Linked DNA regions of Homo sapiens: region 2 is linked to region 1. The links come from fine-mapping of genetic effects on plasma protein levels. A gene starts in region 1. The other region holds a variant in brackets. All regions are shown on one strand. Distances are from middle to middle. Region 1 holds the start of RPL14 (ribosomal protein L14). Region 2 overlaps ENTPD3-AS1 (ENTPD3, EIF1B and MYRIP antisense RNA 1).

What was found. PIP is the chance, under the fine-mapping model, that this variant and not a neighbour inherited with it causes the effect. Protein levels are from antibody-based Olink assays in UK Biobank. Linkage for the fine-mapping came from a reference panel and not from the study's own genotypes, which makes the PIPs less certain.
Region 2: its variant is fine-mapped to the plasma level of the RPL14 protein (UK Biobank, PIP 0.93).

Annotation. Positions count from the first base shown.
Region 1 is chr3:40,453,587-40,461,784 of GRCh38, reverse strand. RPL14 (ribosomal protein L14) reads right to left here and starts at 4,446. Exons shown (of 6, transcript NM_001034996.3): 1 at 4,311-4,446; 2 at 3,794-3,895; 3 at 3,049-3,143; 4 at 279-378; 5 at 124-177. The coding sequence starts at 4,313. RefSeq lists silencers at 2,653-2,947, 4,161-4,210 and an enhancer at 4,353-4,647.
Region 2 is chr3:40,433,331-40,450,441 of GRCh38, reverse strand. The region is part of intron 2 of ENTPD3-AS1 (ENTPD3, EIF1B and MYRIP antisense RNA 1); the gene reads left to right. Among named protein-coding and RNA genes, the nearest start is that of ENTPD3-AS1, 11 kb to the left of the region's middle. The variant G/A (reference allele first, on the strand shown) is at 5,068.

The DNA of each region.
Region 1 (8,198 bases):
GAAGATAAATTCTCCTTTTTTACAGAAAGCTTCCAAGAAGCTGGCAGCCTGAAATGGGATTTGGCTACTGCTCCCTTATTATTTAAAGCTAAGTTACACAAAAATACAGATCTTAAATCTTACCATTTTCTTTGCCTTCATAACTTTAAAACGATCAAAATCTGTCATCTTGGCTTTCTGTTAAAAAAAAAACAACAAATAAAAATTATCCCTCTCACACTATCTTGAACCCTCCAAAAAAAGAAAGGACCAGAATTCAAATGACCCTAAGTTATTACCCTTTCTCTGGCTTCAATCTTCTTGGCCCATCGTGTGGCTGCCCATTTTGTATTGATGTCTGCCTTCTGCCAGGCTTGTCGGACATACTTCTGGTGGGCACTAGAACGAGCCAAGACCACAGATTAAGAAATCAGCTTTGAAGTCACTCATTATCAAAGACACTTTCTTTGTTCCTTGAAAAGCACTCTTCCTGTTACACAACACCTGGTACACTATGTATTTTACTTATTTTTGTGTTCAGTAAGCCAGAATAGGTTATTAACTTCAAGCATATTTTAATCAAAACTGTAATCCAGTCCCTTTTTTTTTTTGAGAGAGGATCTTGCTTGCCACCCAGGCTGGAATGCAATAGTATGATCATGGCTCACTGTAGCCTCAACCTTCTAGGCTCAAGCCATCCTCCTGCCTCAGCCTCCCAAGTAGCTGGGACTACAGGTGCATACCAGCACACCCAGCTAATTTTTATATTTTTTGTAGAGACAGGGTCTTGCTACGTTGCCCAGGCTGGTCTCCAACTCCTGGGCTCAAGCAACCCTCCACCTTGGCCTCCTGAAGTGCTGGGATTACAGGTATGAGCCACTGCACCCAGCCCAGCCCATTTTATGAATTTAAAAACTACCTCTTGACCAGGCGCAGTGGCTCACACCTGTAATCCCAGCACTTTGGGAGGTCAAGATGGGTGGATCACCTGAGGTCAGGAGTTCAAGACCAGGTTGGCCAACATAGTGAAACCCCATCTCTACTAAAAACACAAAAATTAGCTGGGCGTGGTTGCAGGTGCCTATAATCCCAGCTACTTGGGAGCCTGAGGTTGCAGTGAGTCAAGATTGCGTCACTGCACTCTAGCCTGGGTGACAAAGTGAGACTCCGTGTCAAAAGAAAAAAAAAACCCTCAAAAAAAACACAAAAAACCCACCTCTGACTATATATAATTCCACTCGGGCAGTGGACGTGTTGAAAACCATTCTTTTTTTTTTTCTTTTTTTGAGACAGGGTCTTGCTCTGTAACCCAGGATGGAGAATGCACTGGCGCAACGTTGGCTCACTGTGACCTCTGCTTCCTAGGTTCTAGCAATTCTTCTGTTCCATCCACCCAAATAGCTGGGGCTACAGGAGTACACTACCACACTGGGCTAATTTTTGGACTTTTAGTGGAGACGGGGTTGGCTAGGCTGGTCTCAAATTCCTGACCTCAAGTTATCTACCTGCCTTGGCCTCCCAGAGTGCTGAGATTACAGGTATGAGCCACTGCACACATCCGAGCCATTCATTCTCGTAACAAACAAGGTAATTAATATTAACTGTTAGGCTTTTTTTTAAAAAAAAATTTACAGTAACAATTTGTGGCCAAACATCCTAAAAATAAAATCCAGGGTGTCCAGGGATCCAAGGCAGAATTACAAGAGTACCTAGTGAAAAATCTAAGTTACCAAGTATTTTCTACTGCTTTGAACTTTGACAAGTATCCTCAAGCTTCACCCCTAATTGGTATGTCACAGTAGTAGCAGCATGGCTATGTTCACTCGAGGTTGTTCAAGTGGCATGTTTTCAACTACCAGTACTTCAAAATCCATTATGTGTTAATACACGTCCCACAGTGCCTGTAGTGCTCAGCATACAGTAAGTTTTTTTTTTTTTTTTTTTTTTGAAACGGAGTCTCGCTCTGTCACCCAGGCTGGAGTGCAGTGTTGCGATCTCGGCTCACTGCAAGCTCCGCCTCCCGGGCTCACGCCATTCTCCTGCCTCAGCCTCTGAAGTAGCTGGGACTACAGGTGTCCGCCACCATGCCCGGAATATTTTTTTTTTGTATTTTTAGTAGAGACGGGGTTTCACCGTGTTAGCCAGGACGGTCTCCATCTCCTGACCTCGTGATCCACCCGCCTCGGCCTTCCAAAGTGCTGGGATTATAGGCGTGAGCCACCGCGCCCGGCCAACATACAGCAAGTTTTTGACTATTTTTTAAAGCATGCAAAATTACATGTTCCACTGCAACCATCATTGTGGGTTGAATTAACTGTATAGCAACACACTAAAGTGTTTTAATTTTCATGTCAAAAAAGAACTGCTATTCACTGCCTCACTTAAATGTAAGCTAGGGATAAAACCTCTTATATTAAATACTGTGTAACTGACACACACTGAGAGCTTATCTAATGATAGCTAGTAGCAATAAACACAAGACTTAGTATTGTTGTTTACTTTAAGCTAAAAATTTGGCAGAAACCAGAAGAAAAGAAGATGGCAAATCTAAACAAAGGCAAAGCCCTAAACTACCAGGATAGAAAAGTGACCTCAAGGCATTTATTTTATTTATTTATTTTTGAGACAGGGTCTCACTCTGTCATCCAGGCTGGAGTGCAGTGGCATGATCACGGCTCTCTGCAGCCTCGACCTCGCTAAAACGATCCTCCCAACTCAGCACCCCCAAGGCCCCCCTACCTGGGATTACAGGCGCGTGCCACCATGCCCAACGAATTTTTTTTTTATTTTTTGTAGAGATGGGGGTTTTCGCCATGTTGCCCATGCTGGTCTTGAAACTTGGGCTCAAGAGACCCTCCCACCGTGGCCTCCCAAAGTACTGGGATTACAGGCATGAGCTATCACGCGCAGGCAAGACATTTTAAAAGTAAATAATCCCTGTCTACTTCTATGATGCAAATCCCTCTTCAGGATGGCTCTGAATCTTCCGTATTGTTTACTCCAAAACAAACTTTTACTAGCATAAACAAATCTGGGGATGGGAGGGAGGAGTGATTAGTGGACAGTTACCTGTGCGGAAACTTGAGGATGAAATCAGTGAGCTGCATGCACTTGAAAGGCATGGCCTGTCTCCTCACTTGAGTGCAAGGTCCATCGACCAAAGCCTAGAACACAAACATCAAGAACTTCAGTGCAAAATCTAACAGCAATTAAAATGGTCAGATGGTTCTGTAACATTACTTATCCGTTCAGGGCCATCAAACCCACACTACTATTTTAATAAATTGCTCAGAAAAGACAAGGATTGTCCTATCTGGGTTATATATATGTATGTCTTTTGCTCAACACAAACATTTCTCCACATCATTAAATGCTCCTTCTTAAACTATATAGTACCCCATAGAAACCAACCACATGTAATTTACAGGCAACTTTAGGACTCTGATCCCTGCTGATTTATAGTCAGTGGTCAACTCCTTAGTTTGCTTGTTTCAAATACACAGCAGTAAATACAAAAGTGCTTTCTACGTGCTGGATCTGTTCTAAACTCACTTTACGTATAGTAACTCATTTAAAACTAACCAACGTTTCAGCCTATAACTGGCTCTAGCTTAAGTGGCTAATACTGAAATTCAATACTAATAGCTAACTTCAGGCTGTGCTTAAAACCCGTACCATTACCTGTTTCCTCAATGGTAAAATAAAGCGACTACCCATAGCATCCTCATCTTACACAGCCATCGAGACAATTCATTATTGCCATCTGCAGGGCACATGTCCACTGCCATGTTTAGTAAAAAGTTGTGACACTTACCCTGTTCTGATCAATAACATCTACAATCGCGACCAATTTTCCGGCATGAGGTCCAAAGGAGACATAGGCCACCCGGCCAACCTCCACGAAGCGCCTGAACACCTAAAATTGGAGGAGAAAGGACAGTGAAACTTACTTAGAAATACTCGCTACATATGTCACCTTCTGCAGCTAAAGACAACATGGTTAAATTCAGCGAAAAAGAATGCTGCAGGGAACAAACGCCCGAGAGCCAGGCGCCAACCTGGATGGACGAAATCAGCAAACGCCTCAGTAGCTTAAGCCCGGTTCCCAACGCCCGCCAGCTCCCAGGTCCGCAAGGCCCACACGGCAGGACAAGGCTCTCGGACCACGAGCCGCATCAGCCATCCAGCTCCAGCGGCGGAGGCGCGCACGCGTGGCCCAAGGCGCGCCAGGCCTGCCGGGCCCTCCACGCGCTCGCCAGCGGCGAGTCCGGGAAGGGCGCGAGTCCGGGAAGGGCCCGATTCCGCTGCACAGCCGGCCCGGGGACCCTCACCATGCGCTTCCCGGGACCCTCTGGGAGCCGTTTGGCGCCTCAGCTTCCCAGCGGAGGTGGAGGTCGAGCGGCATGGTCGACGGCCCCGGAGCCCGCAACAGTAAGACTCACCATGTTGGCGGCGTTAGGCGAGAAGGAAGAAGACCCGCCCAACCCTGCGCATGTGTAGAAGAACGCACCGCCCCTGCGGTAACGAGTCACCGACGTGAGCACCGATTGGTTGGTGCGTGCGTGCGTGCGTGCGTACGCACGCGCTCGCAAGCTCACTGGGAAAACATGGCGGAGTCGGCTGGCGTTAAGTTGCTTTTTGGCAAAGTTGGGCGGCGAGATTGTTTTTGGTGATTTGGATTAGAAAGCTGCAGGAGGGTCATCGCTTAGTAATTTAGGGTTAAGAGTACAGAAGCTATGTCTTCCGTTGGTCGCATGCCATTTGAGTTCCTTTTTATTTCCTCGAGTTTTATTTGTTGGTTATTCATGGCTAGGTCTGTTCGCTCCTCACGTTCTCTCCTAATCTCAGTAACTTTGTTAACCTTTCATTTTCAAGTAATTCACAGTTACAGAAATATTGCTAAACTAGTACAAATAATTCCCACAAACCCTTCTAGATTCCACAAATGTTAACGTTTTGCATGTGCTATATCATTTGAAAGGAAATTGCCGACATGATGTCCTTCTATCGCTACATTTTTTTTTTTTTAAAGACGGAGTCTCGGTCTGTTGCCCAGGTTGGAGTGCAGTGGCGGGGGCTTGGCTCACCGCAACCTCCGCCTCCCGGGTTCAAGTGATTCTCCAGCCTCAGCCTCCCAAGTAGCCGGGACTACAGGCGCGCGCCACCATGGCCGGCTAATTTTTTTGCATTTTTAGTAGAGACAGGGTTTCACTATGTTGGCCAGGCTGGTCTCGAACTCCTGACCTCGTGATCTGCCTCCCTCAGCTTCCTAAAGTGCTGGGATTACAGGCGTGAGCCGCCGTGCCTGGCGTTACATTCTTTTATAGAGACAGGGTCTCCCTCAGTCGCTCAGGCTGGAGTGCAGTGGCGCGATCATGGTTCCCTGCAGCCTCTAACTTCTGAGTGAAGACGATCCTCTCGTCTCGGCCTTCCAAAGTGTTGGGATTACCGGCGTGAGCCACCATGCCCAGCCTATCTATACGTTCTTAAAATGTGTATTTCCTAACAACAGAGAGATTCTCTTATGTCATCAGTACACTTATCAAAATCAGGAAATTGATATTGCAATAGTACTATTATCTAACCTTCAGTCCTTATTCAAATTTATAAGTTGTTGCTCCTATGTTCCTTGGAGCAAATGGGAAAAAAAATTGTTTTTCCAGGCTCTTGATCTAATGGAGGATTACAAATTGCAATTATTTATCAGGTCTCTAGTCTTTAACTGATAGTTTTAGATTTAACTGTTAAATTTGTAACATGGGTTTGTTGGAGTTTTCCTCATTGGATTCAGATAGTGAATTTTTGGTAGAAATGCTATGTCCTTGGTGCATCACATCAGAATACATTCTCTCTCTCTTCACTCTCTCTCTCTCTATATATATACGCACACACAAACACTTTTTTTTTTCTTTCTTTTTTTGAGATGGACTCTCCCTCTGTCACCCAGGCTGGAGTGCAGTGGTGCGATCTCGGCTCACTGCCACCTCTGCCTCCCAGGTTCAAGCAGTTCTCTGCCTCCCGGGTTCAAGCAGTTCTCTGCCTCATCCTCCCAAGTACCTGGGATTACAGGTGCCTGCCACCACGCCCGGCTAATTTTTGTGTTTTAAGTAGAGACAGGGTTTCACCATTTTGGCCAGGCTAGTCTTGAACTCCTGACCTTGTGATTCACTTGCCTCAGCCTCCCAGAAGTGCTAGGATTACAAACGTGAGCCACTGTGCTTGGCCACACACATATACATTTTTTCGAAGAGATGGGGTCTGGCTGTGTTGCCCAGGCTGGAGTGCAGTAGCTATTCACAGGTCTGATTGTAGCCTGCTACAGCCTTGAACTCATGGGCTCAAGCAGTTCTGCTTCAGCCTCCAGAATAGTTGGGACTACAGGAATACACCACCACACATGGGTTCCCAATATTGTGGTGGTATTTTATTCTTTAGATTTTTACCCAGGCCAGTGCAGAGAGGTGTTACCTTTTATCACTTGATTAAGGTGATGATCTTTGCCATGACAGTTCCCAGATGTATTTCAAGCCTTTCCTCTAAGCTCTATGCCAGCATATCTTCCCTGAGACTGCTCTAGCAGCCTCCTAAATTCTGTCTTTAATCTGTTCTCTGCTCAGCAGTTAGAGGGATCTTTTAAGTAAGTAAATCAGATCACATTATTTCCTGTTTTTAACAGTTCGATTGCTTTTCATAATATTTGGAATAAAATCTCAACTTCTTACTCTGGCCTTGTATCATATGCTTTAATACCCAGATACACCTTATGCCATCCCTCCTTCATTGTGTTGAAGCCACACTGGTCTTGAATGGGCCAAGCTCTCTCCTCCTCCATGACCTTTATACATGGTGTCTCTCTTGCCAGGAATGGTCTACCCATTGTTAATACTCATCGTGTAGCAGTGCCAACTTATCTCTTGTATTTTTTCCTAGATATTTTTCTGAGAGTTAACCAGGCTACCACATAAAAAAAGGTTAAGTCCCCACCCTTCTTTTTCTAGCTCACCTTGTTTCCCTCAGAGTTATCACAATTGCAATTGTTTGACTTGTTTTGCTGCCCACGTAGGTGTTGTTTCGTTCCAGTTAGAATAAGTTCCATGAGGGCAGGACCTTTGCTGTCTTTTCTGTTTTATTTTCTCACCTTAGTCTGGTAAGGGGCTCAATAAATAGGTAGTGAATGAATCAGTCTTTAGGTCTTGTTGTCTTGCTTTATAATTTACAAAGCAAAAGATATGAATGAAGAAGAATGTTCATTTTAGCATTTTTTTTGCTACTATCTCCAAACTGGAAATTACCCAAAGGCCCATAAACAAGAGACTGGATAAATTGTGATAACAATCTATAGCAACGGAGTCTACAGCAACTACATGGAACAATGCGGATGAATTTCATAAATAACACTAACAAATAAGCTGACACAATATATCCTGTATGCTTTTATTTATATCAAATTCAAAACAGGCAAAACTAATCTACAGTTCTTATAAGTAATGATCATATTTACCTTTGGTGCAGGCAGCAGTGGCTAAAGGGGAAAAGGGGAGCTTCTGAGCTGCTGGCCATGTTGTTTCTTCATCTGGTGTTAACTACGGGAGTGTGTTATTATTTTTGTTTTAAATTTTTTTAGAGACGGGTCTTGCTATGTTGCCCAGGCTGATCTGGTACTCCTGGCCTCAAGCCATTCTCCTGCCTAAGCCTCCCGAGTAGCTGGGATTAGGGGCACGGGCCACCCCGCCTGGCTGAAGTGTTTGCTTGTGAAAATTCAGAGCCCTATCCATATGGTTTATGCGTTTTCTCACCAAATGTATGTTAACCTAAAAAGTTTTTTTTTAATGCAGTTTCCTGGCTGTACAACCAGAGAACTTTATTTGCAGGTCTGGTGAGGGGCAAGAATCTGCATATAAAAACAAGCTCTCAAACACACTTTGAACTTCCCCGAACACAATTTGAGAAACACTTTGGGACTCCCCCTACAGTTACAGAATTATTTTCTAAAGTACATTATCTTGTTATATCACTCCTGTTTAAAGTTGATTTTTATCCCCTATCTTACAGGATATAGTCCAAACTCCCTAGTCTGGCATTCAAGGCACTCCAAAATCTTACTCCCAAACACCTTCCTAGCTTTTTTCTCCGACCATTCTGCGTCTCTCATTCCTATTTCCCGCAGCATTTCATGCAGCTTGAGCCCCCTGTTTCCTAAAATGTGCTCCCCACAAGCA
Region 2 (17,111 bases), 16 kb after region 1:
TGTATTAATTCATTTAGCAAACACTAAATGCCTCGTGTGTGCCAGAAACTATTCAAGGCATTGAAGACATAGTAGTGAATAAAACAGGCAAAAGTTCTACTCTCATGGAACTGTCATTCTAGTGGGTAGATACAGAAAATAAACAAATAGTGTGTCATATGGTGGTAAGTGCCACAGAAAAATAAAAAGGAGGATGGAGAGTACTAGGGTGGATTTGCTTTAGGGGGAAAGGGTAGTTATTTTAAATAGGGAAGTGAGGGAAGGCCTTGAGGAAAAAGTGACACTTGAATAGAGAACTTCAGGAGATGAGTGAGCAATTCATGTGGATGTCTGGGATTCCAGGCAGAGGGAACAGCAAGTTCTCTCTCAGCATGCGTGTGGAAGAGCAGGAAGACCAATGAGGCTGAAGTGGGGTGATTGAGGGAGAGATAGTATAAGATGAAGGAGCCAGGGCATGTGGAACCTTGGAAGCCACTGGAAGGACTTGCTTTCACTCTCAAGATAGGAGCCAGTGGATGCTTTAAATGGAGCAGTGACATGATCTGACATGTTTTTAAAGATGGTACAGGCTGTTGGGTTAAGAATGCCCTCCTCATCATAGACAGTAGGAGGCAAGGTTGCAGCTGGAGACAAGTTGGATGGGTGTTACATCTTGGCTTTTTTTTTTTTTAAAGGATTACATGAGTTAACATTCATTAAAGGCAGTAGTAATATGTTAAAAGGACAATGTTGGGCCTGAAAACCTGTGTTTTGTATGTCTCCATACCAGCAGGGACACTGTCTCAGAGGTCACTGTGGTGCTAATAAATATTCAGAACCCAAGTTGTACCAAATATTTACCATGGGAAGCAGTACTAGGGCTTAAATTTCTCTTGGCATAGATCCTGGATCAAAAATGTTTCTATTATTAAGAATTTCCACATATACAAAAATAGAATAGTATGTATAATAAACTCCCATGTACACATTACACTTTCTCAAAAATTATCCACACAGGGCCAATCTTATTTCATTTCTACTCATTTACTACTCTGTCTTCTGTTTTATTTTAAAAGCCAATTCAAGAAATTTTAGCCATAAATACCTCAATATGTATCTAAACGATGATTTCTTTAAAATAAATATAACCCCAATAGTATTATCACACCTGAAAATTAACAAAAATTCCCTAATATCTTCAAGTATTTATTCCAGTTTTGGAGGGGTTCTTGCGCCTTTGTCCATATTTTCTGAGAGCCTGTAGTTGATCAAAAGCCTTCCAAGAGACAACATCAGTTTTGGGAAGACCAGTATTTAAATTTTTATCAAGTGACTCCAGAATTGTGGCTGAGAACCAGTCACACACACACACTCACATAGAACATTTGTGTAGCTAGTCCTTATAGCACTTCTAACAAACACTAGGCACCATTCTGAGTGCCTTACAAATATTAAATTGTTTAATCCTTGCAAAAGCCCAAGATGTAACCTCTAGAATAGAGGTGATATTATTATCCTTACGTTGCAGGTGAGGAAACGGATAGGGAGGCTAAATAACTTGTGCCCCCTCAGATGGCTAGTCAGTGCATGGTTCAGACCCAGAGTCCATACTCTTAACCGTGCAGAATCCATTGAGGGTGTAAAGTTGTTAGGTGGATCCAATTAGATTGAGGAAATTAGCAGCGATCCTAGTCGAGGAATAAAATTGCATCTACTCAAACCTGAGTTGAAAGAAGTTATGATAAAAATTAAAGAGAACTTGAAGGACAGCTCAAGGACTTGTGATATACTTAGTTGTCAGATCATGATCTCAAACTTTTTTTATTTTTAATTTTATTTTTAATTTTTTTGTATTTTTAATTTTCATGGCTACATAGCAGGTGTATATATTTGTGGGGTACATGAGATATTTCGGTACAGGCATGTAATGCGTAATAATCATGTCATGGAAAATCGGGTATCCATCTCCTTAAGCATTTATCCTTTGTGTTACAAACAACCCAATTATAGTCTTAGGTTTTTTGTTTGTTTGTTTGTTTTTTGAGACGGAGTCTCGCTCTGTTGCCCAGGCTGGAGTGCAGTGGCACAATCTCAGCTCACTGCAAGCTCCGCTTCCCGGGTTCAAGTCATTCTCCTGCCTCAGCCTCCCGAGTAGCTGGGACTACAGGCGCTTGCAACCATGCCCAGCTAATTTTTTGTATTTTTAGTAGAGATGGGTTTTCACTGTGTTAGCCAGGATGGTCTCGATCTCCTGACCTCGTGATCCGCCCACCTCAGCCTCCCAAAGTGCTGGGATTACAGGCATGAGCCACCGCGCCCGGCCTCTTTTAGGTATTTTTAAGTGTACAATTAAATTATTGACTATAGTCCCATTGTTGTGCTATCAAATACTAGTCTTAGTCATTCTTTCTAAATTTCTTGTGTATGCGTTCACCATCCCCACCTCCCCCCACCACACCACTCACTACCCTTCCCAGCCTCTGGTAACCATCTTCTATTCTCTATCCCTATGAGTTCAATTGTTTTGACTTTTAGATCTCACAAGTAAGTGAGAACATGTGATGTTTGTCTTTCTGTACCTGGCTTATTTTCACTTAACGTGATGATCTCCAGTTCCATCCATGCTATTGCAAATGACAGAATCTCATTCTTTTGATGGCTGAATAGCAGTCTATTGTGTATAAGTACCACATTTTCTTTATCCATTCATCTGTTGGTGATCTCAAACTTAACATACCAACATAGAGCTCCTGATCTTCAGCAACCCCTCCCTATTAATCCACTAAACCTTACTGTTTAGTTTTCTCCATCTGTGTCAATGGCAACTCCATCCTTCCAGTTGTTCAGAGCAGATACCCTGAAGTCACCCTCAATCCTTCGCTTTTTTTTTTGTTTGTTTTTTTGTTTGTTTGTTTGTTTGTTTTTTTGAGACGTAGTCTCTCTCCATCACCCAGGCTGGAGTGCAATGGTGCGATCTTGGCTCACTGCAACCTCTGCCTCCTGGGTTCAAGTGATTCTCCTGCCTCAGCCTCCCGAGTAGCTGGGATTACAGGCGCCCGCCACCTCACCTGGCTAATTTTTTTGTATTTTTAGTAGAGATGGGGTTTCACTGTGTTGGCCAGGCTGGTTTTGAACTCCTGACCTCAAGTGATCCTCCACCTTGGCCTCCCAAAGTGATAGGATTACAGGTGTGAGACACCTTGCCCAGCTGATGTTTCACTTTCACACCCCATATCCAGTCAGACAAAAAATCTTGTTGGCTCTACCTTTAAAATTTTATTAAGAACCTGACTACTCTCCTCCTCTGTTATAATAAACCTTGTGCAAGCCACCACTATCTCTTGTTTGGATAACTGCAGTAGCCTCTGTGGTGGACACTTCTAAAATGGCCCCCAGTGATTTCTGCCTTCTGGTATTCACACCTTTGCATAATCCCTTCCCTTTCAGAAACAGCTGGACTTAGTGACTTTCTTCTAAGGCATAGACTATGACAAAAGTTGTGGGATGTACTTCTGAGATTAGAGTATAAAAGACTGTGACACCTCTGTTTGTCTCTCTGTTTTTCTTTCTCTTTCTCTGCCTCCCTCTCTTTTCTGTTTGCTTGCTGTGATGAAGCAAGCTGCCCTGTTGTGAGCTCTCCGGTGGAGAGCCCCACATGGCAAGAAAATGAGAAGCCCCCTGAACAGACAAGAGCTGAGGCCCAGGATACAATATCCTGAAAAAAACTGAATCCTGCTGACAGTTGCCCAAGTGAAGCTGGAAGTGGATCTTTCTGCAGTGGATCCTTGAGATGACTGTAGCCCTGGCTGACAACTTGATTGCTGCCTGTGAAGGACCCTGAACCAGAGGACTCAGCGAAATTGTGCCCAGATTCCTGACCTACAGAGGCAGTGAGATAATAAATGCTGTTGAGGTCACAAAGTTTTGAGGTATTTGTTAATACAGCAATGGATACTTAATACAGCTTCCTACATGGTCTCCCTCCTTCGACCTTTACACTACAATCTGTCGTCCACACAGCAGTCAGAGATCCTTTTAAAACATAAGTCAGATCATCATGACACTCACCTCCCTGCTAAGTGTCCTGCAAGGCCTTTCACGGTCTGATCCCCTATCCTTTCTCTTTCCTCATCTCCTATCACTCTTGCCCTTGCAAATTTTCTTCCAGCACTCTGGCCTCCTTGCTGTTCTTCAGTATGGCAAGCAACCTGCTGCCCGGAGCCCACACACTGACTGTCCCCTCTCCTAGGACACTCTTCCCTCAAGGGCTCCCATATCTTGCCTGCTGGCTCCTGCATCTTCTTCAAGTCTGCTCAAATGTCACCTTCTCAGTGAGGCCCATCCTGGCTATCCTCTTTCAGTTCTGACAGAAAATAATTTATTGCTTTATTACATCATTATTTTGTTGTCTTCCCTCCGTCTGTTCCTACTAAAATTTAATCTCTGAGAAAGCAGAAAACGTTGTCTTGTTCTTTCCTGTAACCCAAGTGCCTTGAACATTGCCTCATTAATTGCTTGCGCTCAGTAATATGTGTTGAATAAATGGGTTAAGTAGTTTATTAATTGTGAAACTAAATCCTGTCTGAAAGGTTTGGAGCAGCTTGTTGAAATAGCAAATGGAGATTCTGTGTTTTAAGTTGTGGCTAAGGTAGAATCATCCATGATGTATGTGGAGCCAGCTCCTGTGTCCTGGACTTAAACATCTGTATCTGACGTGTGGGTAATTATATTGCTATCCTACACCTTTGACCCATTCATCTCGGCTCACCTGTGATCCAGGCTATGCTACTAAAGTTGGGTGAGAGAGTCTGCAACACAAGGAAAACATAGAGCCATCATTTAGTAAATCAAACCCATAATAATACATTTTGTTGTTAAATGTAGCCAATCTCTGAGTATTTTTTATTAAAGTATCTCTAATGTTTAAAAACATCTAACACATTCATCATGTTTCAACTGTCCTCAGCCCCTGCTTGGCTTCCCTCCTGTATGTGTCAGTGCCCAAAGTCCGGAAGGGGCCAAGGTGGCAGGGGTCTGGCGTGTCAGTGCCAACCTCAGTGTGTGCCCACCTGGCTGGGCTGTGACAGT[G/A]CCCGGGTTCGGCCCCAACCTTGCTTCATGATTGGAGCGGGCACTGGGAGCAGGGAGAGGCCAGGCAGTGGGAGCAGACACTTCGCAGGGGGGCCTTCCTGGGCCCCCAAGAGCACAGAGATGCCTGGGTTTGCAGCCGGGCCTGGGCAGCTGCAGTGGCACCTGGGGAGGGCAGGGCTTCTGCCTGTTCCATGGAGTGTACAACCCCAGCCGTGCCTCCCTGCTGCAGCCGATGTCTTGGCAGTGGCCACTCTAGATGGGTCACTGCTGCCACCAATATGACATTAATGAAGTAGACTTAAAGTTTTCAGGGGATTTAATTAATCATGATTTTAAGTGGTGCTAATGTTTCTGGAAATTTAATCTCTTAGACTTGACTTATTTGAACATTCATCATAGAGCAAGCTAAAGTTATTGTTTCTAATTTACATAAAAATTACTACCTATAAAACAGAATAATAACTTTACAAGTTGAAATAAAAGGTTTAAGAAAATCTAGGTTTTTAAACATAAGACTTTAAAAATTAAATATTATTTTAATGGCTAGTAACTGTTGATAGTCCATTTGTGCACAACAACCCCCCTTGGGCATTTGAAAATAAAAATCTCTACTGACCATTTTGAAAGAATGAGTTTGAGGATACATCCACAGGTTGGAGCTTCAGCATGAGCAGGACATGGAGAGCCCAGGAAACTTGAGCGAAATCATAGGGTCACATCTGAAGAAGAAGTTGATTACATTCAATTCTGGTCACCTGGCCCATTAGTGGTGGCATCAGACCCAGAAGAGGCATCTGGAGGGGAGTTAGTGTGCATCAATTTTAGCAATGAGTTATAGAGTCTCTCAATAACTGTGGCTTAAACATTTATTTTCCTCTTTTGTGGGGGTCCTGAGCTGGCCTGGTCCCTCAGCTCAGGGACCCAGCTTACTCTCCCTACATCCCTAACATCCATGAGGTGGCTCTTATTCTCATTACTTCAGGCCTACAGATCCTGCCCTTACACTTTGCAGCAGGATAAAGGAAAAGGGCAAAAGATGGGTGTCCACTGTTCTCTCAGGAAGAGTCTTGGTTGCCATATCAGGACACTTCTGCTTCCTTTCCGTTGGCCAGAACTCAGCCTCATTACCAAACCTACAAGCAATGCTGGGAAATTGAGTCTCCACTTCTGGTGGCTATGAGCCTTGCTAAAAATCAGATATTCTAGAACTATTACTATGGAAAAAAGCAAAAGTAAATATCAGGAAATGGGTACTTACTACTTACACATGTTATGTGGGCAGCAGCAAGCTATAGGATGTGAAATTTTAAATCTTAAGACTTTATATGGAAATGGCACAGTTGAAATAGGATGGAAATGATAGTCATAAGTAGTCACTGAAATCTATACAGGAAAACATAGGCTTGTTCCTGCAATGTCACAAAACACCAGCTGGGGATTTTGTTCAAAACCCCAAAAATGTCATTTTAGGGCAGATAAGTGTTCTTTTAGAAACAGCATTTTAGAAACAATCAAAAAACCGCCAAACTGAGGAACAAATTAGCCTATGAGGAGGTATACATGGAAAGTATAAATTGGGTCTAAACCTTTTTCTCTCTTTCTGTTTCTTTCTTTGTTTCTTTGTTTGTTCTTTCTTTCTTTCTTTCTTTTCCTTTCTTTCCTTTTCTTTCTTTCTCTTTCTTTCTTTCCTTCCTTCCTTCCTTCCTTCCTTCCTTCCTTCCTTCCTTTCCTTTCCTTTCCTTTCTTTCTTTCTTTCTTCCTTTCTTTTCTTGCGATTTTCCTGCCTCAGCCTCCCGAGTAGCTGCTATTACGGGGGCCTGCCACCATGCCTGGCTAATTTTTTTTTTTTTTTTTGTATTTTTTAGTTGAGACAGGGTTTCAGTACGTTGGCCAGGCTGGTCTCGAACTCCTGACCTTGTGATCCGCCTGCCTCGGCCTCCCAAAGTGCTGGGATTAGAGACATGAGCCACCATGCCCGGCCCTAAAACTTTTTCATATGCATACATATTTTTTGAGATGGAGTCTCACTCTGTCACCCAGGCTGGAGTGCAGTGGCACAGTCTTGGCTCGCTGCAACCTCTGCCTCCTGGGTTCAAGCGATTCTCCTGCTGGGATTACAGGCGTGCACCACCATGCTTGGGTAGTTTTTGCATTTTTAGTAGAGTCGGGGTTTCACCATGTTGGCTAGGCTGGTCTCAAACTCCTGACCTCAAGTGATCTGCCCACCTCAGCCTCCCAAAGTGCTGGGATTACAGGCATGAGCCACTGCACCCAGCCAAGTATCTTTTTTTTTCTTTTTCTCTTCTTTTCTTTTTTTCTGATGGAGTCTCACTCTGTTGCCCAGGCTGGAGTACAGTGGCTTGATCTCAGTTCACTGCAACCTCCCCCTCCCAGGTTCAAGCGATGCCCCTGCCTCAGCCTCCCAAGTAACTGGGATTACAGGAAGCCACCACCACCCCAGCTAATTTTTGGATTTTTAGTAGAGTCTGGGTTTTGCCATGTTGGCCAGGCTGATCTTGAGCTCCTGACCTCAGGTGATCTGCCCGTCTTGACCTCCCAAAGTGCTGGGATTACAGGCGTGAGCCACCGTGCTCCGCCTAAAGCTTTTTCATAATTTAATCAATGGCATATTCCTAGGAGAAACCATAAAACGTTAAAATAAACTGCTTTGCTTACACAGAAAACAGCCTTCTTGTATAAAATCCTGGGCTGGAAGTTCTTGTCAACAGGTTACCCTTCTATTTTTTATTTTTTATTTTTTTTTGAGACAGAGGCTCACTCTGTCACCAGGCTGGAGTGCAGTGGCATGATCTCAGCTCACTGCAACCTCCACCTCCCAGGCTCAAGGTATCCTCCCACCTCAGCCTCACAAGTAGCTGGGACTACAGGTACAGCCACCATGCCTGGCTAATTTTTTTGGGGGTATTTTTTTGTAGAGACGAGGTCTTGCCATGTTGCCTAGGCTGGTTTCAAATTCCTGGGCTCAAGCAATCTGCCTGCCTAAGCCTCCCAAAGTGCTAAGATTACAGGCATGAACCACTTCGTAACCACCATCCAGACCAAAATACAGAACATTTCTGTGGCCGAATTAAGTTCCCTCTTTCTTCTTAACTTCATTTCCTGGAGTCTACCACTATTGTGCCTCTATATCACCATAGATTCCTCTTGTTTATTCTTGGCCTTCATATAAATTGTATCATACAGTATGTATTCTTTTGGGTCTGATTTTTTCAGCTCAACATTATGTCTGTGAGAGTCATCCATGTTATTCTAGGTATTAGGAGTTCAATCCTTTTTATTGCTCAGTAGTATTCCATTGCATGAGTGTAACACAATTTTTTTTTTTTTGAGATGGGTTCTCACTCTGTCCTCCAGGCTGGAGTGCAGTGGTGCAATCATGGATCACTACAGCCTCGACCTCCTGGGCTCCAAGTAACCCTCCTGCCTCAGCCTTCCAAGGAGCTGGGACTACAGGCACACATCACCACACCTGGCCATTTTTTTTTTTTTTTTTGGTAGAGCGGGGGTCTCACTAGGTTGCCTCCCCAAGTGCTGGGATTACAGATATGAGCCACCACGCATGGCCCAGATGTAAAGTTCTATCAACTTCATCATCATCTTTTTTTTTTAATTATACTTTAAGTTCTAGGGTACATGTGCACAACGTGTAGGTTTATTACATATGTATACATGTGCCATGTTGGTGTGCTACACCCATTAACTCGTCATTTACATTAGGTATATCTCCTAATGCTATCCCTCCCCACTCCCCCCACCCCACAACAGGCCCCGGTGTGTGATGTTCCCCTTCCTGTGTCCAAGTGTTCTCATTGTTCAATTCCCACCTATGAGTGAGAACACGCGGTGTCTGGTTTTCTGTCCTTGCGATAGTTTGCTGAGAATGATGGTTTCCAGCTTCATCCATATCCCTACAAAGGACATGAACTCATCCTTTTTATGGCTGCATAGTATTCCATAGTGTATATGTGCCACATTTTCTTAATCCAGTCCATCATTGATGGACATTTGGGTTGGTTCCAAGTCTTTGGCTATTGTGAATAGTGCCACAATAAACATACGTGTGCATGTGTTTTTATAGCAGCATGATTTATAATCCTTTGGGTATATACCCAGTAATGGGATGGCTGGGTTAAATGGTATTTCTAGTTCTAGATCCTTGAGGAATTGCCACACTGTCTTCCACAATGGTTGAACTAGTTTGCAGTCCCACCAACAGTGTAAAAGTGTTCCTATTTCTCCACATCCTCTCCAGCACCTGTTGTTTCCTGACTTTTTAATGATCGCCATTGTAACTGGTGTGAAATAGTATCTCATTGTGGTTTTGATTTGCATTTGTCTGATGGCCAGTGATGATGAGCATTTTTTCATGTGTCTATTGGCTATTTCCTTTAGAGGCTACTGAGTCACTTCATTCTGGCTGGTCCCCTCTACACCTTCATCACCATCCTGGAGATTTCCTTCCCATTTTCTCCCATATTGGATCTCCTTTTTTTCTGGAGTCGATGCCTTTTGTTTCCTTGGTTTAGTCTCTTCTTTTGGTGGAACACACCTTCCAGTTAGCTCCCTGTAAAAGGAAGCTGTCAGAAAATGTCTCTCTTCTATTCTCATACCTAATTGATCATTTTTGGCTGGATACAGAACTCTAGCTCAAACATGATTTTCCCTCAGAATTTTGAAGGCATTACTCCATTGGCTTCTTGCTTCCAGAGTTATTGTTGAGAAAACTAAATCCATTCTCATCTTGATCATTTGTATGTGGCCTGTTTTTTTTTTCTCCCTCTCTGAAAGTTTATAAGGGGTATTCTTTTTCTTTTTAATGTTCTGAACTTTTATAGCATTGTACATTGGTGTAAAGTAATTTTTATTTATTGGGCTGGGCCCTTTCAATCATGTCCATATCCTTCTGGTCAGGGTAAAATTTTCCATGTATTTCATGGGTGATTCTTCTTTTTGAAACTTGTGTTATTCAGATGGGGGTTTTGGTGGGCTAGTCTTAGAATTTTGTCTTCTTACTCTTTTTCCCATTTCTTTGTGTTTTTTCTTTCCTTTCTGAGGGTTTGCCTCAATGCTATCTTTCAACCCTTCTAGCGAGTTCTTAATGTCTGCTATCATGTTTTAAATTTCCAAGAACTGTTTCTTTGTTCTGAATATCTCATCTTTCCTTTAAAAAAAATTGTTTCTGAGCTAGATGTGGTGGGGTGTGCCTGTAGTTCCAGCTACTTGGGAGGCTGAAGTGGGAGGCTTGGGCCCAGGTTTTCAAGGCCAGCATGAGCAACATAGCAAGATCCTGTCTTAAAAAAAAAAAAAAAGAAAAAGAAAAAAATTGTTTCTATTTCATTGATGCAGTGTCCCTTATTTTTCTTATAATATTAATGAGTTTCTTTTTTTTGTTTAAAATATTTTTTTCCTTGCATAGTTTCTGTTTCTGCCAATTCATTTTTTCTTTTAGTTTGTTAGGCTCTTTATCCATATAATCTAGCTAATGGGTTTTGGCAGGCTAATGAATATATAAATTTGGAGTCAAGGGAAGAGGTTGGAGAATAAAAATTTTATCCAACTCAGAGAGCTGTTATAAAAATTAAGTGATGTAATGCATATAATTTGCTTAGCACAGGTCTGGAATATAGTAAGCATTCAAATGTTAGATGTTATTTTTTATTTTATTATTTAATGGCTGCATCATACTCTTTTAGCATAGCATATAGATGAACATAATTCACCTCGCCATTCCTCTACTGCTATTGAAGATCGGGCTTACTTTTTCACTTTTTACTATTATATAAATAGGGATTGGTATTTTTCTGAAAGCAGCTTTAGTCACATATTTTTAAACTTTCATTATGTAATATATATTTTTTTGAGACAGGATTTTGATCTGTTACCCAGGCTGGAGCACAGTGGCACGATCATAGCTTACTGCAGCCTTGACTTCCCAGGCTCAATCTGTTCTCCTTCCTCAGCCTTCTGGTTAAGCTGGGACTACAGGCACGTGACCCACACCCAACTAATTAATTTTTTTTTTTTTTTTTTTTTTTTTTTTGTAGAGGTAGGGTTTCTTTATGTTGCCTAGGCTGGTCTCAAACTCCTGAGCTCAAGCAATTCTCCTGTCTTGGCCTTCCAAAGTACTGGTATTACAGGTGTGAGTTACCGTGCCCAGACTCATTATGGAATTTTCAATCATGTACAAAAGTAAAGAAAATGGTATAATAAACTCCTGCATACCCATTATTTAGTTTCAACAATAGCCATTTTTGGTCAAGTATCCAAAGATGTTCATGTTTAATGGGCCATCTTGTTTTATCTATAGTATATGGATTCTATACCAGTGCTGTCTAATAAAAATATAATGTAAACTACAAAGGAAAACCATGTTTGTAATTTAAAACCTAACTTAATGTAACCTAAAATGTTCTAGTAGCTACATTTGAAAAATATGAAAGAAAGAAGTGAAATTTATTTATTTATTTATTTAAGACAGGGTCTTACTCTATTGCCCAGGCTGGAGTGTAGTGGTGCAATCATAGTTTGTTGAAGCATCAAATTCCTGGACTCAACCGATCTTCCAGCCTCAGCCTCATGAGTAGCTAGGACTATAGGCATGTGCCAACAGGCCTGCTAATTTTTAAAGTTTTTGTACAGACAGAGTCTCCCTGTGTTGCCCAAGCTGGTCTGGAACTCCTGGCCTTAAGTGATCCTCCCATCTCACCTCAGCCTCCCAAAGTGCTGAGATTATAAGTGTGAGCCATTGTGCCTGGCCTGTGAAATTAATTTTAATAATACATTTTATTTTACTCAATGTATCCAAAATATTGTTTTAATATATAACCAGTTTCCAAGTTATTAATGACATATTTTAATTTTTTTGGTACTAAGTCTTCAAAATCTAGTGTGTACTTTACATTCATTGCATATCTCAACTGGACTAGCTCAATAGCCATATGTGCCTAGTGGCTCCCCTATGAGAAAATGTGAATATGCTCACCAAACAGGATTAATGTGAAGCAGATCCCAGACATTATATCAGTGTATCCATAAATATTTCAATATGTATCTGTAATAACAATGTCCGTATTTTTAAAAAAGGTTTCCTTAGAATTAATTTTTAGAAATACGGTTGTTGGATTGAGGAATGTGCACTTTTAAAATCTTGCAGCATATTATAGCTACTTTTTCGGAACGTTAGATTAATTTACACTCCTTTCTGGAGTGTGTGATGGAGCCCATGTCACCCTCATAGAGTGTATTTGGATCCCTGACCATGGTTCTGAAATCTACAGAAAGGCAGTAAGACTTCCTCTCTGTTGTGAGAGGTCAAATTTTGTTTTGTTTTGTTTTAATGGCTTAAAACAAGTTTTATTCTCTTACAGTTCTAAAGGTCAGAAGTCTGAATTCAGTTTTACTGGGCTAAAGTCAACGTTTTGGCTTTTAGAGGTTCCTTTTGGAGACTCTGAGGGGATAATTTGTTTCCTTGCTTTTTCAGCTTCTCATGGCCACCTATGTTCCTTGACTTGCCCCTTCCTCCATCTTTCAAGTGCATCATCCCAATCTTTACTTGTATTCATCACACCGCCTTTTCATCTGTGAGAAGTCAAGTTCTAGTGATGATTCAGAGGTGACTTTTAAGCAGATAAGAGCAAAGGGACACAAGCAGGAACCTGCCAGACATAGTGGTGTGTACATGTAGTCCCAGCTACTTGGGAGGCTGAGAAGGAAGGATTGCATGAGCCCAGGGGTTCAAGTCCAGCCTCAGCAACATAGACCCCATCTCTAAAATAAATGAATAAATAAATAAATAAAATAAAATAAAATAAAAACATGGGCTTCTTGGAACTCTACTTTTATTTAGAAAAGAAGAAAGCAGATGACAGAAGATAGAGGGAGGTAACAATAACAAGAGAGACAGACTTCTGGGTAAAAATGGCTGATAAAACACAAACTGATATCTAAGTGCATATCTTCCTGATGCCTGACTAGAACAACAGTGGGGGCTGTCCTTAAATACTTGCCTTGTTTTCTTTCTTTCTTTTCTTTTCTTTTCTTTTCTTTCTTTTTCTTTTTCTTTTCTTTTCTTTTTTTTTTGAGATGGAGTCTCCCTCTGTTGCCCAGGCTCGAGTGCAGTGGCACAATCTCGGCTCACTGCAACCTCCGCCTCCTGGATTCAAGCGATTCTCCTGCCTCAGCCTTCCGAGAAGTTGGGATTATAGGCACCTGCCATCCTGCCCAGCTAATTATTGTATTTTTAGTAGAGATGAAATTTCACCATGTTGGTCAGGCTGGTCTCGAACTGCTGAGCTCAGGTGATCCACCCGCCTTGGCCTCCCAAAATGCTGGGATTACAGGCATGAGCGAGCCACCACTCCTGGCACCTCGTTTGTTTTCTGTTTAAGGTGAGGGGATAAAAAGCTGATTGGAAGTTTTGAGTTATTGATTCAAGCTTCACTGTAGGATAATCTGACTAGCAAACTGCAAATGCCAGCACATTTGTGTCCTTTCTCCTGGACTTCTTGGATTCCTCACAAAAGAATCTTCCAAAGTCCTGACTAGAGGGTAGAGTTAACCTAGAACCTGGGAGTTGATGGGGTTAGAGGCTTGGAGTCTAAACACTGAATATGCCTTGGTTTCCTTAATCTTGTTGTTTTGGTATGACACCTCCACCTGTAACTGTGCCTTGTGCCTTCCAGTTCCTGTGCTTGGGTTAGGAAGAGGCAGTCACTCATCAGCAAAGAGTAGAAGGTATCTAGGAACCACTATTCTTTTTTTTTTTTTCTTTTCGAGAAGGAGTCTTGCTCTGTCGCCCAGGCTGGAGTGCAGTGGTGCAATCTCGGTTCACTGCAACCTCTGCCTCCCGCGTTCAAGCGATTCTCCTGCCTCAGCTGCCTCAGTCTCCTTAGTATCTGGGATGACAGGTGCTCTACCACACCTGGCTAATTTTTGTATTTTTAGTAGAGACAGAGTTTCACCATGTTGGCCAGGCTGGTCTTGAACTCCTGACCTCATGATCCACCCGCCTCAGCCTCCCAAAGTGCTGGGATTACAGGCATGAGCCACTGCACCTGGCCAGAATCACTATTCTTAAACAGCTTTAATTATCTTTATTTTGTGCTTGCCAACCCAACTTGCAGCTGTACTTGATGCCACAGATTCCTGAGCTTTTTGAGAACACTGCTGTTTACATTGGTTGATTTTTTATTTTCTCATTGTTTTAGGATTGTGCTTTCTTGGGTCTGCTAAGTCAGTTACCCCTGGTCCACCATGCCAAAATGTTTTTGTTGTTTTCTTTTCTTCTTTTCTCTCCATGCTTATGGATATGTGCTGGTATAAACAGTTTTTGTTTTTTTAAGAAAATAGTCTGGATCTTAACCTTCCTCTTACTAAACCCTCTCTCCCTGCTATATTCACATGTCATTTAATAGCAACTCTATCCTTTCAGTCACTCAGGCAAAAATATTGGAATAACTTTTAACCCCTCTTTTTCTCTCTCACTCCATGTACATTCATCAGCAAACACTGTGGGCTCTACTTTCACATATATCCGGGGTCTGACCATTGCTCACAGCCTCTACTGCTACCAACCTGATCCAAGCCATCAGCATTTCTCATCTGGATTATTAAAATCACCCACCAACTGGTTTTCCTGTTTCTGCTCTTGTCTCCTTTGTTTTTTATCACTGTAACTAGAAACAGAAGCCAGATACCCCTCCTTTGTTCAGAACTCTAAATGGGGCCCCCTTGCACCATCTACTCCGTCTTAACTCCCTTACCCTATCTCCTCCATCTTCCAGTCATTTATTCTGCTCCAATCACAATGGCCTTTGTATTTGTGGTCTCTTTTGCTTAGAATGCTCTTCCTCCAGATATTCAAATGGCCGACTCCTTCACATTTTCCAAGTGTTCGTTCAGACGTCACCTTATCTGAAAAGACTTTTCTGACCTAATGGCGTCCCCATCTCATGCTCCTGGCACTTTCCTTTCCCCTTACTTTTCTTTATATTTCTCCAGATCACTTATAATCCCCTGTACAGTGTGTATTTAGTTGGTTAGTGTCTGTCTCCCCCACTAGAACGTTGGCTCCCTGAAGGCAAGGACTTTGTCTACATTGTTAATTGGTGGAGTTATGCCACCTACACAGGATCTTACTCAGAGGATGAATTCAATCAATATTAGTTGAATGAACAAATGAACAAGCAGTTGAATTGAATGGCTGTATTAAAGGAAACTGAGGCATAGAAAACTTAAGATTTTTAGACAAAGATCACACAACAATGAACAGCAGAACTAGGATGTGTGAACCAGGTTTTTGTGATGTGAAAGCCTGAGTTCTTAATCATTTTGTTTGATATTTGGGAATAATTTTTAATGAGATCTGAAAATGCTAATGGTATAATGCTGTGAACGAAGGAAATATAAAATTGTAATTCCAGCATGATCTTAACTATGTACAAATATGTAGAGAAAAAGATTCAGAAAGAAAAATATCAAATATACAGCAGTGAGATTCTGCGTGTTTATATATATATATATATATATATATATTTTTTTTTTTTTTTTTTTTTTTTTTTTTTTGAGACAGTTTCATTCTTGTTGCCCAGGCTGGAGTGCAATGGCATGATCTCAGCTCACCACAACCTCCGCCTTCCGGGTTCAAGCAGTTCTCCTGCCTCAACCTCCCAAGTAGCTGGGATTACAGGCATGCACCACGATGCCCAGCTAATTTTGTATTTTTAGTAGAGACAGGGTTTCTCCAGGTTGGTCAGGCTGGTCTCGAACTCCTGACCTCAGGTGATCTGCCCGCCTCAGCCTCCCAAAGTGCTGGGATTATAGGCGTGAGCCTCCATGCCTGGCCTCAAAATATGTATTTTAACTTTTATTTAGAAAATTGTAAACATACACAAAGCAGATAGAATACTATAATAAACTCCTATGTCTCATCACCCCAACCTCAAGGACCATCAAAGTATGGGCCAGTTCTACCCCTACATTCTCCCTCCCCTGTAATTTTGAATCAATTCACAGATGTGGTGGTCAATTTTATGTGTCAACTTGGCTAGACTATAGCACCCAGTTATTTGTTAATCTAGGTGTAGCTGTGAAAGTATTTTGTGGGTGTGATTACTGCCCATAATTAGTAGATTTTTAAGGGGACTTATCCTAGATAATCTGGGTGAGCCTGATTAAATCAGTTGAAAATCCATAAGAGCAGAACTGGGACTTCTCTGAGAAGGAAGAAATTCTATCTGTGGACTGTAGCTTTAGTTCATGCCTGAGGGTTCCAGCCTGCTCTTCCTGATGGCCTGCCCTGTGGATTTAGGACTTGCCTAGCTAGCCCCATAGTCTCACAAGCCAATTCCTTGCAATAGATCTCTTAATACTGGCTCTATTTCTCTGGTTGAACTTTGACTGATACGCCAGACGTATCATTTCATCTGGAAACAGTTCAGCAAGTATCTAAACCAGAGGTCCCCAACCCTCAGCCAGGCAGTAGACCAGTACTGGTCCGTGGCCTGTTTAGGAACCGGGCTGCGCAGCAGGTGTTGAGCAGCGGGCAAACCAGCATTACCATCTGAGCTCCGCCTCCTGTCAGATCAGCAACAATGCGAACCCTATTGTGAACTGCGTGTGTGAGGGATCTAGGTTTGCTCCTTATGAGAATCTAATGCCTGATGATCTGAGGTGGAACAGTTTCATCCTGAAACCATCTGTGCATCCCCACCCAGCCCCACACTGTCCGTGGAAACATTGTCTCCCTTGAAACCGGTTTCTGGTGCCAAAAAGGTTGAGGACCATTGATCTAAACAGCAAGGGTTCTTGAAAAAAAAATCCAAGATACCATTATTTCATTTAGTTATTTACTTATTTTGAGACAGAGTCTTGCTCTTCTGCTCAGGCTGGAGTGCAGTGGCGTGATCTCGGCTCACTACAACTTCCACCACCTAGGTTCAAGTGATTGTCTTGGCTCAGCCTCCCGAGAAGCTGGGATTACAGGTGTGCACCACCACACCTGGCTAATTTTTGTATTTTTTGGT